Regions from separate parts of the Homo sapiens genome. Here region 2 is linked to region 1. Evidence: fine-mapped expression QTL. A gene starts in region 1. The other region holds a variant in brackets. All regions are shown on one strand. Distances are from middle to middle.

What was found. PIP is the estimated chance that this variant, and not a neighbour inherited with it, causes the effect.
Region 2: its variant is the best candidate, but not a certain one, in a credible set for the expression of POMGNT2 in nucleus accumbens (GTEx, PIP 0.62).

What each region holds. Positions count from the first base shown.
Region 1 is chr3:43,101,854-43,110,346 of GRCh38, forward strand. POMGNT2 (protein O-linked mannose N-acetylglucosaminyltransferase 2 (beta 1,4-)) reads right to left here and starts at 4,226. Exons shown (of 2, transcript NM_032806.6): 1 at 3,983-4,226. RefSeq lists a silencer at 3,994-4,313.
Region 2 is chr3:43,077,117-43,085,609 of GRCh38, forward strand. It overlaps POMGNT2 (protein O-linked mannose N-acetylglucosaminyltransferase 2 (beta 1,4-)), which reads right to left. Exons shown (of 2, transcript NM_032806.6): 2 at 2,118-4,420. The coding sequence starts at 4,315. The coding sequence ends at 2,573. Among named protein-coding and RNA genes, the nearest start is that of POMGNT2-AS1, 4.7 kb to the right of the region's middle. RefSeq lists enhancers at 2,511-3,012, 3,013-3,512. The variant G/A (reference allele first, on the strand shown) is at 4,358.

The sequences.
Region 1 (8,493 bases):
TTTTGAGACAAGTTGCCCCAACCCATTCCTTCCCACACAAAGTGCACCATTTGTGGTGTGGGAGTGGCAAGAAACGAGTCCAGGTCTCTTGGCCACAGCTAAATGGACTAAGGATGGAGTCTGGGTCTAAAGCAGCCACCAGTAGAGGACATAGGGAGATGGCCATCCCTGCAGGCCAGCAGAGAGGAGGTAGGTCCCCCGAGAAAGAAGCCCCTGAACAGAGCAAATTTGGACAGCATCTCCAGTTCCTTACAATGGCTACTGTGTGACTCTCTTGGAAGCTCTGGGACCCAGCACAACTGTGGCAACTCCAGATGCCACTCCAGGATGTGCCATGATTCCTGCCACAAACCTCCACTGTCAAAGGACCCCGGGGTGTGTTTCATCACTGGGTGTGGCAATACAGCAGACCAGGTCCCCAGTCCCTTCCTAAGGCTTAGCTCAGGGCTGAGGAGCAACTACACAGCAAAGAAGGGGCCTTCTCTTAGCCTTTTCAGAATGGAGAAAACAGATAAATTTGTAGCATAAGCTTGTACCAATGGCAGTCACCACTGGCAGAGTGAAAGATCTGATTCTCTTAGAGGTGCTGGAGTATGTACCAGTGCAGACATGGGAAGCCAGAGAAAACAAAAGGACTTGTCCAGGTTAACTAAGAAAAAAAGGATGTTGGCCTCTGGGTAGGGGATAAAGATGAATGGTCTCACCATCTTACTTTACTGAGCACCTACTATGCGAGAGGCGCTGTCTTAAGCCTTTTTCCTGACCTATTTCATTTAAGCCTCACCCTCCAATGCAGTACCAATATTATCCCCATTTTCTTTTAACATGAGAAAACCAAGTTTTAGTGGAGTTAAGTACCTTGCTTAAGGTCTTAAAGCTCAAGAAGGGCCACCAGGATTTGAACCTGCCTCTCACTAAGGTCTTGTTCTTAGTACCGTGCTCATCTGTCATCAGACTTGGAGGAACACTCAATGGCAGATAAGCAGAGTAGACTGTAGAGCAGTGAGTTTTTATTAGTCAAGGGCAGAGCAGGTGTGGTGGCCCTGGAAATGTAGAACCACAGGCCCTGGACTGTAACTTAGCAACCCAAGGCTTCTTGCTGTAATTCCTCCCCACCCAGCCAGGCAGAGGGTACCCAGCTGTGACAGGTGGCTTAGGGAGCTGTGGCCATTCTCTCACCCTAAGGAGAGTCTAAGTAACATACTAGTGTGATAATTTATCCCATGTGCCCTGGTACTGTGCTGAGAGGGTTAGGCCATCAATTTAGAATTACAAAACCACTGCCCTTTAGAGCTACAAGAACCCTTAGAAATGATTTCCTCCAACTCTTTATTTCATAAAAGAGGTCTGGAGAGGCAGTGTGAGCTCTCACAGGCAGCCAGGATTAAAATGGCAGAATGTTGGCTCTCAGTCCAGGGCTCCTTCTCCTCCCTTATCCACAGCTCAAGGGCTGCTCTCCCTCACAAAGCAAAGATAAGGCTCAGAGAATTATGCAGCCCCAGAACATTTCCCAGGAGCTAAACGAAGGCATTTCTTCTCATACACAAGCTTCCCAGATCCCACCCAGCCTGCACCCTCACCCAGCACTGCCCCCTCACCCAGCCCTGCTGTCCAGTGATGAGACCCTAAAGAGGCGACAGGGCTTGCCTGGGCTGCCTCTTCCTAACACCTCCTCCCCTGAACTCACTCAGGGACTGTCCCCTACAGCTTCACCATGCATCCAACACCAGCCACAGAGAGGAAACACACAGCCAGGCTGCAGGGTCCTGCCTCTGACCCACTTGGTGCGGGAAGACTCCCTGCTGCAAGACTGGAGGCTGCCCCAGGTCATAACTGGGCTTCAAGAATGCAAGAACAGCAAGGACGATGGGCAGCAGAGAAGGAGAATTACATGGCACCAGTTCTGGAGCTGGAGATGCCAGGATATGAATTCCCATCCCTGTCACTTAGCAGCTAAGTGACCTTAGGCCAATTCTTTACCTCTCCAAGCCTTCACTTCCTGGCTTGAAAAACACAATTATACCTACTTCACAGGGTAGTTTTGTGAATTCAAAGAGACAGCAAAGGCAAAACACCATGTCTGACAATTATTTTTCTAATATTATTATTAATCGTAATGGTAAAATAACTCCTGTTCACTGGCTTTCACTCTCAGCCAGGCACAGTGCTAACTGTTTTACACGCATTATCTCATTTATTCCCCACTACCTGAAGTAAATGCTATTAATTCAATTTCACATTTAAGAAGGTATGCTTAGAGGCATTAAGTGAATTGCCCAGTGATACACAGCAATTAAGTAGAGGGGTTAGGATTCAAAACCAAGACGGACTCCAAAGCCCGTGATGACATTTGCAGGTTCCACCTTTCACATTCATTATTTCATCCAATTTAAGAAACCCTGGGAATCACGTGATTGGTAGGTCCTGGGGGGAAAGTATCCCACTGACAACCAAGCTGAGATTGGCAAGGACCCTTGGAATGGGGGATTTGGTAATCTAATTTTCTAGTTAGTGCAATATTTACTAGAAGGCTTTGTTTATTGCTAAATATTTTCTAAAGCAAGGCTCAGAGCAAGAACTTGCCAACTAGCATGCTTACATGGCCACGGTGGGCCCAGCCACCAGCACCATGCCCTCCTTTCTGCTGAAGATCTCCACTCTCCTTCTCGTTCTCGCAGGGGCCCAAGGCTCAGGAAGGAACGTGCTGACCACCCCTGGGGATGAGGGGACCTATGCTCTTTCCTAGCTCTGCAGGGACTGAGATTCCTCAAAATTAATATTGAAAGGATGAGCTGGAAGATCTGCAAGATTCATGAGAGCCAGAGAGGGCAGCTAGTACCATTAAAGATGAACCTGGACTCCAAGCACCTCTAACACTTTCTGTCGTTAGTCACCACGACTGCTGATATTTGCCACACACTTACTGTTAGACATACTGGGCTGAGGACTTGCCTGGCACTATTTCATCCCCACTGCAACCCCGTGATAAAGGCACTGTACTTTCATCTCCACTTCACAGAGAAAGAAACAGAGGCTAAGAGAGGATAAGTGACTTGCTTAAACGCACACCGCTAGTAGCCGAGAACCAAGATTTGAAGGCGGGGCACATATTGTAGTAAACATTTGGTGAATGAAACCTCCTCTGTCTATGCTCTTAGCTACTAAGTCCTATCAAGCTCGCCCCATAACCCTGAAGTCATCCTTTTCCACGCGGAGCCTTGCTTCTCCCAAGAGTACGCTCTAAGTGTTGGCTGGCAATAAAGTAGGCAGACACTGGTCGCCCTGCACCTGGTGCAAGACTCTGGCCTGACGGTCACATACTTTAGCAGAGAGTTCCCATCAGTGAGCTGGAGACGGGTTCCTAAACACACACATGGAGTCAGGAGTTCACTGGGTTCCTTCTTCAGAGGCTACTCTGGCACTGCCAAGCAGGCCGTGGCAAGCTCTTACCACCGGACACACATGGTAGGTGCCCTACTGGCCCCCAAAGCGCCCAGGAATCAGCTGCAGGCCTGCCGGGGTTCTGCCTTCAAAGGCAGTTGGGGAGGCCCAGGCCCGCTCCGCGCACCTCGCGTGGCTCCCCACCACCCCCGCCAAATGTGCACCACCCATCACCTCCCAAAGCAAAAGGGCCTGAGGACCCGACGCCAGTGCCTGCCACGAGCTGAGGGCTCGAACTGGCAAGCCCCAGGGCGTTGCCCAGGTCCCCGGCCCCCGGCCCCCGACCCCCAATCCCCGGCCCCCGACCCTGAGGGTCCACCCCCGCCCCGCCCACCTCCCGCGCCTCCCTCAGCTCGCTTCACACGTCACCCCTCAGTTCTGCAAACTCTCCTGGATCCCGAAGGCGTCCTAGAACCTCCCCCTCACCCCGGGGCCCAGCACCGCGTCGTCCCCTCCAGGGGGCCGAGGGTTCGACACCTCCACTTCAAGTCCCAGGCGGGTGTCGGAGTCCGCTCCAGCCCCAAGCGCGCGCGCGTCTTACCTGAAGCCTGGACTCCGCGGGACGAAGCCACCTCCGCCGACGCGTCCAGGAGGCCCCACGGCGGCGCCGCTTTCCCACCCCGCCGCCGCCCCCAGCGCCAGCTTCTGGCCCAGGAGGCCCAGAAGGCCCAGGCAGCCAGCACAGGTTTGGCCGCGCCGCCGGGTTCGCAGCGACCGCCACCTCCAGGCTCGCAGGTGTCCGCCGTGCGCCTGCCCGGCGGGCGAGCCCGGCGCGGAGCCTGTGCGCCTGCGCAGAGCCGCGAGTTCGGTTGCCCTGGCCCCGGCCACAACCTTGGCTCGCGGAATCCTGGGAGGTGTAGTTTTGCGTACGAGGACAGCCCGCGCCGCCACCAGCCTGCGGAATGTTGGGAGTGATAATTTGCGCCGAGAGGCTGAGTTTTACTTAGTGTTAGGATTACACAGTTATGGCAGTTCTGATAATAAATTTAAATGCAAGTTTAACCAACAACCAAATGTCATTGTAAAGTCAAGGTAATTAATACGTTTACATGCTTTTAAAAATTGTAATGCTACAGAGAACTTACAAAAGCACCAGTCCTCTGCGGCACCATTCCATTAACCAGCTGTCACCTTATCCCACCGTCCAGTCCTGGCTGTCCAGTCCTCAAGGGCAGCTACTTATGGCTGTGGCATCTGGCATTCCCGCGGATTCTCCGAATATACATATGCCCCTATTTCTTGAGTTATGAATTTTAGATCTTTTGACTTCTTTTTTAGATCTCTTGACTTTTTTTGAACTTAAGTCATCTAGAGATGCACCTACCACCACCAACTCCACCTCCATAGAGTTATAAGATTTCTACCTATCAAATTGGGAAAGCCCTGACTTTAATTTATGATTATTTTAAATTAGCCCAAATGTTAAGGTATTAAGTTGGTAAATTTTTGCAGGGCAATTTGTCAATACAGCCAAAAACCTTTAAAAACATGTAGTCAAAAGCCTCTAACCAAGAAATTCTAATAATTGTGGATGACTGCAAAGGCTGAATAGTGTTGTTTAGATGATAATAAACTGAAAGGCTGAAGTGGTGATATTACTTTCAGAGAGAGTAGAATTGACAGCAAGGAAAATTACCAAGAATAAAAAAGGGATAATTATATAATGATAAAAGGTTCAATTCACCAAGAAGACATAATTCTAAATGTGGATACACCTAACGACATAGCCTTAACATAAATAAATCAAATGATAGAACCATAATTAGAAATAGACAACTCTGCAACTGTAATTGGAAACTTCAGCATCCCTCTCTCAACAACTGATAGAACACTAGACAGAAAGTCAGCAAGGATATAGAAAAGATCAACACTAATACCATCCTAATCTAATTGATATTTACATAATACTTCACCCACCAACAGAATACACATTCTTTTCAAGCAACCTTGGTATATATATTAAGATAAACTGTATCCTGGATCATAAGTTTTTAAATATACAGAAGACATTAATATATATTTTACCAAAGTAGTTATACAGATGGCAAATAAGGACAGATGTTCATCACTAGCCATAAAGGAAATGCAAATTAAGACTATGCTGAGATATCACCATACACCTATTTAAAACAGCTTAAAAAGGCAGGGCGCGGTGGCTCATGCCTGTAATGCCAGCACTTTGGGAGGCCATGGCTGGCGAATCACGAGGTCAGGAGTTCAAGACCAGCCTGGCCAACATGGTGAAACCTCGTCTCTACTAAAAATACAAAAATTAGCTGGATGTGTTGGTGCGCGTCTGTAAACCCGGCTACTCAGGAGGCTGAGGCAGGGGAGAATCACTTGAACCCAGGAGGCGGAGGTTGCAGTGAACCGAGATCGCGCCACTGCACTCCAGTCTGGGCTACAGAGCAAGACTCCATCTCAAAAACAAACAAACAACAACAACAACTACAAAACAGCTTAAAAAATAAAATAGCAAATGCTGGTGAGTATGCACAGAACTGGATCTCTCATATATTACTCACAGATGGGTATATCATGGTAGTTTCTTTTAAAAAACTAAACATATGCTTCCCATATGACTCATCAATCACACTCCTGAGCATCTATTCCAGAGAAATGGAAACTTATGTTAACACACAAACTTGTACACAATTGTTCCTACTTTCTTTATTTGTAATTGTCAAAAACTGTCAACAAACAAAATGCCCCTCGATAGGTGAATGGTTAAATAAACTGTGATTACATCTATATAAAGAATATCATTCAACAATAGAAAGGCACAATTGACACATGCCACAACTTGGGCATTATGCTGGGTGAAAAAAAGTCAGTCTCAAAAGGTTACATACTCTGGTTGCCATTTGTATAACATTCTTGAAATGACAAAACTATAGAGATGGAGAAAATATTAGTGGTTGTCAGAGGTTGAAGACAGGGTGTAGGTGTGAATATATAAGGGTAACAGAAGGGAAGCCTTTGTACTGATGAAATAGTTCTTTGTCTTGATTGTGGTAGTGGTTACACAAATCTACACATGTGATAAAATGACTAAAACTACACACAAACTTTCTATCAAGGTTAAATTCCTGATTTTTATATTGTATTATAATTACGTACAATGTAACCATTGGGGGAAACTGGATGAAGAGATTCCTCTCTGTACTATCTTATTATAGATTTTCACAAATCTATAATTATTTCAAGATAAAAAGTAGGAAAAAAAACAAATTTGGAAACTGCTTAATTCCTCAGTCATGCAGGATTAAGTAAAATCACAGATCATCTCAGAAATCATTGAAAAGATGCTGCAAAATAGTATTTACTTAATAGAGTGGAAGACATTTCACATTATATCATATTTAATGAAAAAAGTATAAAATATTCCATAAGATCCCATTTTTAAAAAGAATATATTTGTGCACAGTAACAGCACAGAGCACAGAAGGATATCAGCAAAATTTCAATGAGCCATGACCCAGGGTGGTAAGACTATGGGTGTTTTTTTATTGTCATCTTGCTGGTTACCTGTATGAATTTATTCTGAAGTGAACATATATTGTTTTGTTATTTTAAATATAAGTTGTTTAAAAAACTTCTAAGTTTTAAAAAGCTCCTATGTTGAGTTTATGGGTCTCTATAAGATAGCCAGTCATAGTCACTGATAGAAAGAGGCACCTAACAGTCCAAGAGAGCAGCCCCTTGCTGGAGGTGGACAGGGATTGGGTTCTGGCCAAAGCTGAATCTCCTGGATAGGATCTAACAGGATGGCCTGTAAGTCACCTAGGACCCAGTTTGCAGACACTGATCATCTTTGAGTCCATCATGTTTTGAAAACTATTCTGGCTGTGGAGCATTGCTGGTAGGAAGCTTTAGTAGACTGGAAAAAACTAGTACATTTCTTTTTATTAAATATCCAAGGTGGCTTAGGTAGCTGGCTTTTTGAGGTCTTTCCCAGCATTTTAAATCCATATTCATGCATGCCAAGCTGAGTTAGGCATTCCTCAAGTCCAAGCCCTCTCCCTTTGTCTGGGGTCATATTCCCTTTCTATTTCTCTGTGTGGATGCCTTCCAAACCCACATCTCTAGCCCTGAATTCCAGATCCACATTCCCAATCCAAGTTGCTTGGGGCATACACACCTCCACCTGGCTGGCCTGCTAGGATCTTAAAATCTGCATGATGAACATGGTGGTGATGGTAAAGATTGGGATGGTTTTTAAATATGTCTGCAAATTATTTGACTATTTTTCCTTTGAAAGGGGGAGTCTAGTTCCCTTCCCTCAAATATGGGCATAACTTAGTAACTCACTTCAATGAACAGAAAATGTCAGAAGTGATGCTATGTGACTTCTGAAACTGGGTCATAAAAGTGGTACATCCTCTCTCTGTCTCTCTCTGGTTGCCTTGGGAACAGATTCACCATGTTGTGAGGAAGCTCAGGTTACATGGATAGGACCTGCATGAGTGTATTAATGTGTTAGAGCTGCCATACCAAAATTTCAGACTGGGCAGCTTAAAAAACAGAGATTTACTTCTCACCGTTCTGGAGGTTGGAAGTCCAAGATCGAGGTGTCAGCAGGGTTGGTGTCTTCTGAGGCCTCTCTCCATAGCTTGAGGATGGCCGCCTTCTTACTGAGCCCCCACATGCCTTTTCCCTATGGATGCCCATCCTTGGTGTCTCTTGTGTGTCCCAATCTCCTCTTCTTATGAGTATACCAGTCAGATTGGATTATGGCCTAACCCAAAAATGAGCCTAATCACCTCATTTTAACCCAATTACCTCTCAAAGGCCATATCTCCAAGTACAGTCATGTTCTGACGTATTGAAGGTTTGGGCTTCCGCATATGAATTCGAGGGCAGGGGGATACCATTCAGTCCATAACAATGGGTATACCAGCCAGCAGCCCCAGCTAGGCTTTCAACTGACAACCAATATATATTGCCAGATATATGAGCGAATGAGCCCTCAGATGACTCCAGCCCTGATATGGTTTGGCTCTGTGTCCCCGCCTAAATCTCAGGGTGAATTGCAGTCCCCAATGTTGTGAG
Region 2 (8,493 bases), 25 kb before region 1:
AAAGTCTTGTTTCCAAAGAATAGTCATCAGTGACATGGCAGAGTGTTCATGTCTTAATGTTAAAGAGGAAAAAAAAGAGGGGGGCAAAATTTCACATAAAGCGGATTCCCAATTTGTAAAAAAGTTTGGACAAAGGCAGAGATACACATATTCATTGAGGCAAGGAACCATTCATTGAGCTTTCGCTTGGCTGTGACCCACATGACACAAACCCTCACTGAGCTCCCAGCCTGTGAGCAAGGTCTTGCGGAGAGGTAAGTGCTTCCTGGGAGACAGTGGCGGGGCCAGCAGAGTTAAGGCTTTTTGGGTGTGACAAACTGGGTTTTCAGGAGAGCTGGCCCTTGGGCTAAGTGGTCTTCCTTTTAAATCAAGGTGTGCCATACAGAAAGCACAGAGGTGAGTGAGTGCACTAATGTACCGTGTAAGCAGGATGATGGCTTTCCTCAATGTCCACGGTGCAACCACCATCCAAGACCACAATGTTGCCAACCCACAACCCCCTTGTGTCCATCCCAGTCTTTACCTCCTTTCCCGGTAACCACCATTCTGACTTCCATCGCCATAAGTTTGTATTCCTGTTCTAGGACTTCATACAAATGGAACCATACAGTAAGTATTTTGGGTCTGCCTTCTTTTACTCAATGTTGTCTGAGATTCACTTCATTCTTTTTAAAATTGTTGTGTCCATTGTATGAATATACCTGTTGATGGACACTTGAATTGTTTATGGTGTTTGGCCATTAAGAGTAGAACCATGGACATTTTAAGACATGTCTTTTTGCTGACATAAGCACTCATTTCTCTTGGGTATATATCTCAAGAAGTGGAATTGCTGAGAGATAGGACAACTAAGTGCTCAGCTTTAGTAAAAACTGCCAAATGGTTTTCCAAGTGGTTGTACCATTTCACTCCCCCAGCCCCAGCAGTGTATGAGATCTCTGGCTTTGAGCTGAGTCTTGATGTGTGGATTCTCATGGCAGTTTATGGTGGCAGCAGATGGAAGCTACAGTTAGGGAGAAAGATATTCTGGATGAAAGGAATGTCATAAAGATCCATGGCGACCATGAAAATGCACCATTCAGATCTCCTGCAGCAGAGAACAAGGGATGGCTCAGCTGCCATGCTGAATCCACCAAGGTACTGATGCTGAGGCCACACTTCCCACTGCGGCTCCCAGGTGACGACTAGCATCGGCGGGTGGGAGGGAATACTTATCTAATGGACACCTTTGGCTCAAAACTCCCCGATCAGCCTGCTGAGAGGTTCTCAGCACTGAGCTACAGCCTGAGGCTCTACCTCCTCTCCCCAGCTTCTCTCCCTCTCCCCCTTACAGGAGTCAGACCTGCAGCAGGTCTCCCCAACAATAAAAGGCCAAAACTCCTCTTTCTTCAGGACAGATTTTATCTTGGGCTAACTTTCTAGCTCTGCTCCCATGGAAGCCAGACAAGCCAGTTAGCTGAATGTCAGGTACAGTATTAGGCCAAACTGCCCATGGGAGTTTTTGACCTCTGATTGATAAGCTACACCTGGGCTGGAAGGACAAAGAATAAGCTATACCATCTGGTAAGAAACCATGGCCTTAGGCTTCCCTAAGTGCAGAAACTCATAACTGGGCATGTCCCTTGAGGGACCCTGGGAACTCTGATTGTGGGTTGTTGAAAACACATTGACTCCTATGGGGCATGGGCTTCTGAATCAAGGTGGCCCTCAGGAGTACTGATGTAAGGACTGCTCCTGTGGAAGGGAACTGCTGACATGGCCCTGCTGGCATGCTGAGCATCTCTCTCCATCCTTCTAAGAAACTCTGATGCCAGGTATGATCTGTCCAGGTCTTGCGAGTCTTAATGTCTAGTTGAGCCCAAAAAAAAACCCATGGTGGATACAGCTCTTCCTCCCCTCAGCCCTCTCCTACCTACTTCTAGGCTTTTATCCCATGTAGGTGGAACTGTGATATTAGTCCAGCTAGTCAAGATGAAATCCAACCAGCTTGCTCACTTTGCCATCCTGGGCGCTTTCCCATTGCCACGTCTCCCTAGCTAACAATCAAGATTAAAGGGCACCTGGGTTTTGACGACCAGCTCCCCTTCCTCCCATCCAATAAGAAGACTTGACCAAGATGCTTAGAATCATTTAATGAATGTTCCAAACACACCCTTCACTGGGCTACAGGTAAATTTCACTGGGATGGAAGCAGATGAACCACCCAATCAAACAGTACATGATTACTCGGTTTCCAGAAATCTGGATACCAGAAAAACTCAGTAGGAAACATCAGGATCACCTAGCCAGAGGTTCCTTGTGATTCTTTGCTTCCTCCTCTCCTCTTCCTCCTCCCTGCTAAGGAACTTCTCCAGGGGTACAAATGTTCAGGATGGGAGAAGGGGAAGTCAGGTCCCTTATCTCTAGGGCAAAGAGGAGTGCTGTGACACCACACCCCAGAGACAACAAGATGATGTGGAGGCACAGGCCTGCTCAATAAATAGTTCCCAGAAGTCTCCACAGTGGGATTAATGGGCCCAGGGACGCTGAACTGCAGGAGCCACCTTCCCGAGGCCAGGCTGTGGCCTGCTCGCTACGTGTTGCACACCAGCACATCTGCAAAGGGTCCCAGGAGGATCTTGTTGAAGATGCAGCGGACCCACACCAGGTAGGTGGTGAAGGGCTTGATGTTCTCAGTGAAGGTGTGGTTCTGCAGAGCCAGGATGTAAGGCACGTAGGTGTTCTCCCCCTGCTCCTGCAGCCACACCTCGTACTTCACCTCCCTCACCTTCAGGTATTTAAGGTTCCATGGGATCTGCCAGGAGACAGTGAGGCGGGCCTCGGAGGCGCCATGCACTGACGCCTGGCACCGTGCCTCCCGCACCTTGCCTGGATATAGGCCGACTGTCCACTTCTGCTTCCGTGGTCCTGGCCGGCCCTTCACCACGCGCCGTATGGTTTGAATGAGGGACGGGATGTCCACCTTGGTGTCCTGGTAGATTCGGAAGAGCCACTCGGGGTTCCGGCAACAGAGATGCCGTGGGACCTCACGGCTTTGCAGGATACGGGCTTGCTCAGCCCGGTCCAGATGGGTGATGCCCCCCTGATCCCAGGGCCGCTCAGGGTGTGTGACTGTGTTCTCTGGCATCATGTTCCGCCAGGCTACATACTGGAGGTCCATGCCAGGCAGCATGGCCAGCGTCTTATAGGGAGTGTAGTGGTCGGGATTGACAGCATATGGGAAGAGCTCTACCACAGTTGCCCCACGGGGCAGGAAGAGGGTGGTGACCAGCTGGGCCCCATGCATGCTGACCAGCATGGAGGCATTGCTGACCAGCCGCACGACATCAGCAAAGGTGTGGTCCTCCAGGGACACTGTCACTGTCTTCATCTGGAACTCCTGGGCCAGTGCCAGCAGCAGCTCTGCCTCATTCAGAATGAGTCTGTTCTGGGTTCGGCTAAAGACCAGAATGTACTCCTCGCCTAGGGGGACTCCTGTGTGGCTCACGTTCAGCTTTTCTGTCATGAACCGTGCAAACTGCCGGATCTCATTGCCTGAGACGAGGATGTTGGCCTTCGGGCCCTGGGGCTGCACAAAGCCATACTGGTACCAGGTAGTGATCTTGGAGAGGCCCACAAAAGCATGGGAGAAGCACAGCAGCCGGCCCAGGGTCTTCAGCTGTGCCCGCAGGAGAGGCTGCTTGGGGCTGAGCAGCTTGTAGAGGTCGAAGTGTGCACCCTCGCCCCAGCCCTCCATGAAGAAGAGCCGTGCCTCGTGGGCCAGGCCGGGAAACTGCCGCAGGGTGTAGAAGAGTGGCAGCAGGTCGTCATGAAAGACGTGCATGAGGTTGTCGGGGTTGAAGCGGTTGGCGATGAGGGCCACGTCTGGCACGAACACCGGCTTGGGCATGAAGCGCAGGGCAGCAGCAGGCAGCTCCACGAAGTTGAAGTACTGAGTGTTGTGGTCCTCCACGGTGGATAGGTCGAGCAGGGCTGGCTGGAAGCGCCGGGAGCCCAGGTTGGGCAGCATGACAGAGGTGTTGCCATGGAAGAAGATGAACTCCTCAGCCTCGTTGGAGTAGCAGAGCCACTTGAAGCGGCAGATGCGGTCTGTGTGCGTGCGGCCCGTGCACACCATGTGTGTGCCGCCCTCCATCAGGATCTGCAGTGCCTTCGGGTAGTCGATCCTCAGTGCTGGGGCTGGCTCTGTGGCCTGTCGGCTGAGGGCCAGCTCCTCCTCCAGTGTGGCTGCATGCTCACGCAGCCGCACATGCTTCCACAGGACCGCTGCCAGCACCGACACCAGGAGGGCGTTGAACACCGCCGAGAGGTGCATCCTAATGCCACTGTGGGGCCCTAATGAGATGACGGCCACTGG[G/A]AAGCACCACAGGCCAGGCAGGCTTCACCCATCCCTATGGGCATCCTGAGAACTGGTGAAAGCCTGCAGGAGGAGAGAAGGAAAAGAAAAAGGAATTGGCAGTCTTCCTGGCATCATTACAAGCTCCTGCTATGTGCCAGGCACGGTAGCTAGGCTCTGTGTGCCCGCTACAGCACTGGATCCTTGCAGCCATTGTGCACATTGGTAGGCGTGGTAGATTAGACCATTGTTTAAAATATTCTCTCCCTCCCCATCGCCTCCATGTTGGAAAGTGCATCCCCACACCCGACTTTGGGCTTAGCCATTTAACTTGCTTTGGCCAGTGAGATGTCAGCAGACAGAACATAATCAAAGGTTTGGAAAGTGTTTGGGCTGGCCTTGCCCTCTTTATGACACTGCCATAAGAAGAATGTATTCAGGCTAACTTGCTGGCCCCAAGAGGAGCGAGATACGCATGAAGCAGAACTGCTCCGGCCATGCCCTGTTCTAGTTCAGCTGATCCCTCATGACTGAGTGGGCCCAGCCAAGAGCAGCAGTGCGATCAGCCAAACGCAGCCAAGATCAGCCAACACATAGACATCAGGGCTGAGCAACAGCTGATTAAACATCCCTGAAATTCTGGGGCTGTTTGTGATGAAGCACTGCTGCAGCAAAAGCTAACAAAGAGAGGCCATAGGAAAGACAGGCCATAGGAAAATCCCTTGCAGGGGCCTGACATTCCTGGACTCTGGGTAATGACTTTTCCTTAAATGAGAACAACTGGCATTGGAGATCTGTGAACACTGTTCCCAGGTTGCACACCAAGACCCCAGTATGCCGCCTTTGAGAGACACACACACGTATGGTCAGCTAAGCTTTGCTCCTGCTTAAAGCTCCTTTAGAAATCATGCCTGCTGGCTTTCAGAATCCCTTAGGAGGAGGGTAGAAACTTGTCCCCTCAGTGGTAAGATAATTGTATCTGGGTATCATCATTGAAAAATGTTTTGTGTACTGAGGCAAAAAAAACCAATAGGGTTTTAAATGCCCTCTCCCATATACACACACTGACAGAGAGGCCTGGCTAGGGGTAAGCATTTACTCCCTCTTCTTGCGATATTGTGAAGGGTATCATGCCTGCTCTGGGACCCAGGATTATTCAGACAGTTGAAGAAGCTCATCCTTTGTGACACAGGAGCAGCACAGGTAACAGCTGACACCTGCAGGGCACTGCACCGGGAGGGAGTAGCTGCTCCTTTATTCCCTTGTGGCTAGGTCCTGATGCAATTCCTGCCTCCCTGCAATGAAAAGAATCCAAGTGCATCTTGCCTAGAAAGAGAAGGTGTCTTTAGCTAGGTTCCCTAAGAAGTAGAGTCAGGGGCAAGGATTTGAATCAAAACAGTTTGAGAAATTATCCCATGAAACACGTGTAGGGGAATGGGAAAGTGAGAACAGAGAAGGGACCAAAGCCAACACATACAGGGTACATTAATGAGCAGTTAATGCCATGTGTAGCCTTCCTCCCATGATCATATGCTGGATATAGTATGGAAGCTGGGATACATGTCTATCAACTCCTGTTGGGCATTACTTAGTTGAAGGTCATTCCTGGAGGCATGAGATCTCTTCTGGCCTACTCTTATCCAAAGGTTGGGCCCACACATATGAATATATCATATACTCCCCACCTCCAAACTTCAGGAAATGAAAATTACCGTGACCAAGTATCATACATTCTAGCTTTTTTTTTCTAGTACACTGTATTCTAAGTTCATTAACAACAACAGAAACAAAACAAAACAAAAAACCTGCCCATAATCATCTTAATTAACTTTCCGACCTACTCACCAGGTTGGCAACTTACTGTTTAAAAAATACTGGTCTACTCCAGATGTTCTCAAGCCTGGCTGATTACTGGAATCCTCAGGAGTAGTTGCTAAATAAAAATCCATATTCCCAGGCACCAGTCCTGGAGGTTCTGATTCAGTAGGTCTGGAGTATGGCTCAGGCATCTGCATTATTTGTTTCTTTTATTTCCTGCCTTCTTGTGAATTACTTGAATTCCACTTTGATTTATCAGTAGTGTTTTTGAGTATATCCCTTGATATAGATTTTCTAGTGGTTGCTCTAGGCATCATACTATAATCTGTAACTTATCACAGTCTACTGGTATTGACATTTTACGTTTCGAATAAGTGTAGAAACTTTACCTCCACCTAGGTTCCTTTATAATTGTCTTATGTGTTTCCTCTACATATAATGAGACCCACATCAGACAGTAATTTTGGCTTCAACTGTCAAGTATGATTTCCTCAAGAGGGAAAGGATCATCTATTATATTCACCCATATTTTTACTCTTTATGTTCGTCCCTCATTCCTGATGTTCCAGGTTTCCTTCCATTCCTATATCCCTTCTTTGAAGAACTTCTGTTAGTTCACTATTCTTTTAAGGTCAACTTCCTGGCAACAAATTCTCTTAGTTTTCCTTCATGTCGAAATGTCTGATTTTAGCTTCATTCCTAAAGGATATTTTCACTGCGTATAGAATTTGGGGTACAGATTTTCCTTCTTTCAGTATGTGAAAAATGATGCTGTGACACCTCCTCTGGCCTCTGTGACTGCTGATGAGGAACTGCTACCCTTCGAATTGTTTTTCCCTGGAGGGAATGCATTGTCTCCTGCTGCTCTTAAGATTTTGTTGAGTTTTCAAAAGTTTGACTCTGAGGTGCCTTGGTGTGGGTTTCTTTGGGTTTATCCTCTTTGGGGTTTGCTCAGATTCTTGAATCTGTAGGCTCATGCCTTCCCCCAAATGTGGGAAATAGCCATTATTTCCTTGAAAACTTTTTCAGCCCCACACTGCTCTCCTAGGACTCCAATTACACCAATGCTAGATTAAAAAAAAAAAATTGTATTGGCCAGGGGCGGTGGTTCACACCTGTAATCCCAGCACTTTGGGAGGCCAAGGCGGGTGGATCACGAGGTCAGGAGTTCGAGACCACCCTGGCTAACATGGTGAAACCCCATGTCTACTAAAAATACAAAAAATTAGCCAGGCATGGTGGCGGGCGCCTGTAGTCCCAGCTACTCGGGAGACTGAGGCAGGAGAATGGCATGAACCCAGGAGGTGGAGCTTGCAGTGAGCCGAGATCGCACCACTGCACTCCAGCCTGGGTGACAGACAGAGCGAGACTCCGTCTCAAAAAAAAAAAAAAAAATTGTACTGTCCCACAGATCTCTGAAGCTCTGTTAATTTTTTTCCGGTATTTTTTCTCCCTGTTGTTCAGACTGGATGATTTCTATCATTCTGGCTTCATGTTCGCTGATTCTTTCCTGTGTCCTTTTTATTCCTGATTGAGCCCATTCAGTAATTTTAAAATTCTGCTTACTCTATTTTTCATATCTAAAATTTCCATTTAGTTTTTATAACTTCTTTTTTTTTGCTAAAACTTATCCTGGACATTTCGGTCATAATGTTATGATACTCTGGATCTTACTTAAATCTTCTATTTTAGTAGCTTCTGTTAAAACTGTACTGGTGGGGGAAAGGAGAGCATTGACTCTTTACTGTTGGGCGGGGGTGGGCATCCAGGCTCCCTACTCAGCCTCCACCAATACCATCGTGGCTGGGAGGGGGAGGGATACTCAGCACAGAGTGTGTGTCAGGGTGTCAAAACCCAGGCTCTGCAGTTGGCCTCCAATGACACCCTGGGGTGTGGATGGAAGTCTAGGCCCCAAGAGGACTATGGTAGTGAAGGACGTATGTTACTACTAGGCGGTCGTGAAAGTCTAGGCTTCCCATCAAGTGGGGAGGGTGTGGGGCAGCTGGTTACCCCTAGGCAAAGGTGGAAGTCTAGGCTATCTGATATGGTTTGGCTCTGTGTCCCCATCCAAATCTCATCTTGTAGCTCCCATAATTCCCACATGTTGTGGGAAGGACCTGGTGTGAGATGACTGCATCTTGGGTTGGGGGGGGTTCTTTCCTGTGCTGTTCTCGTGATAGTGAATGGGTCTCACTAGATCTGATAGTTTTAAAAACAGGAGTTTCTTTGCACAAGCTCTCTCTTTGCCTGCTGCCATTCACGTAAGATGTGCCTTGTTCCTTCTTGCCCTCTCCCATGATTGTGAGGCCTCCCCAGCCATGTGGAACTGTAAGTCCAAT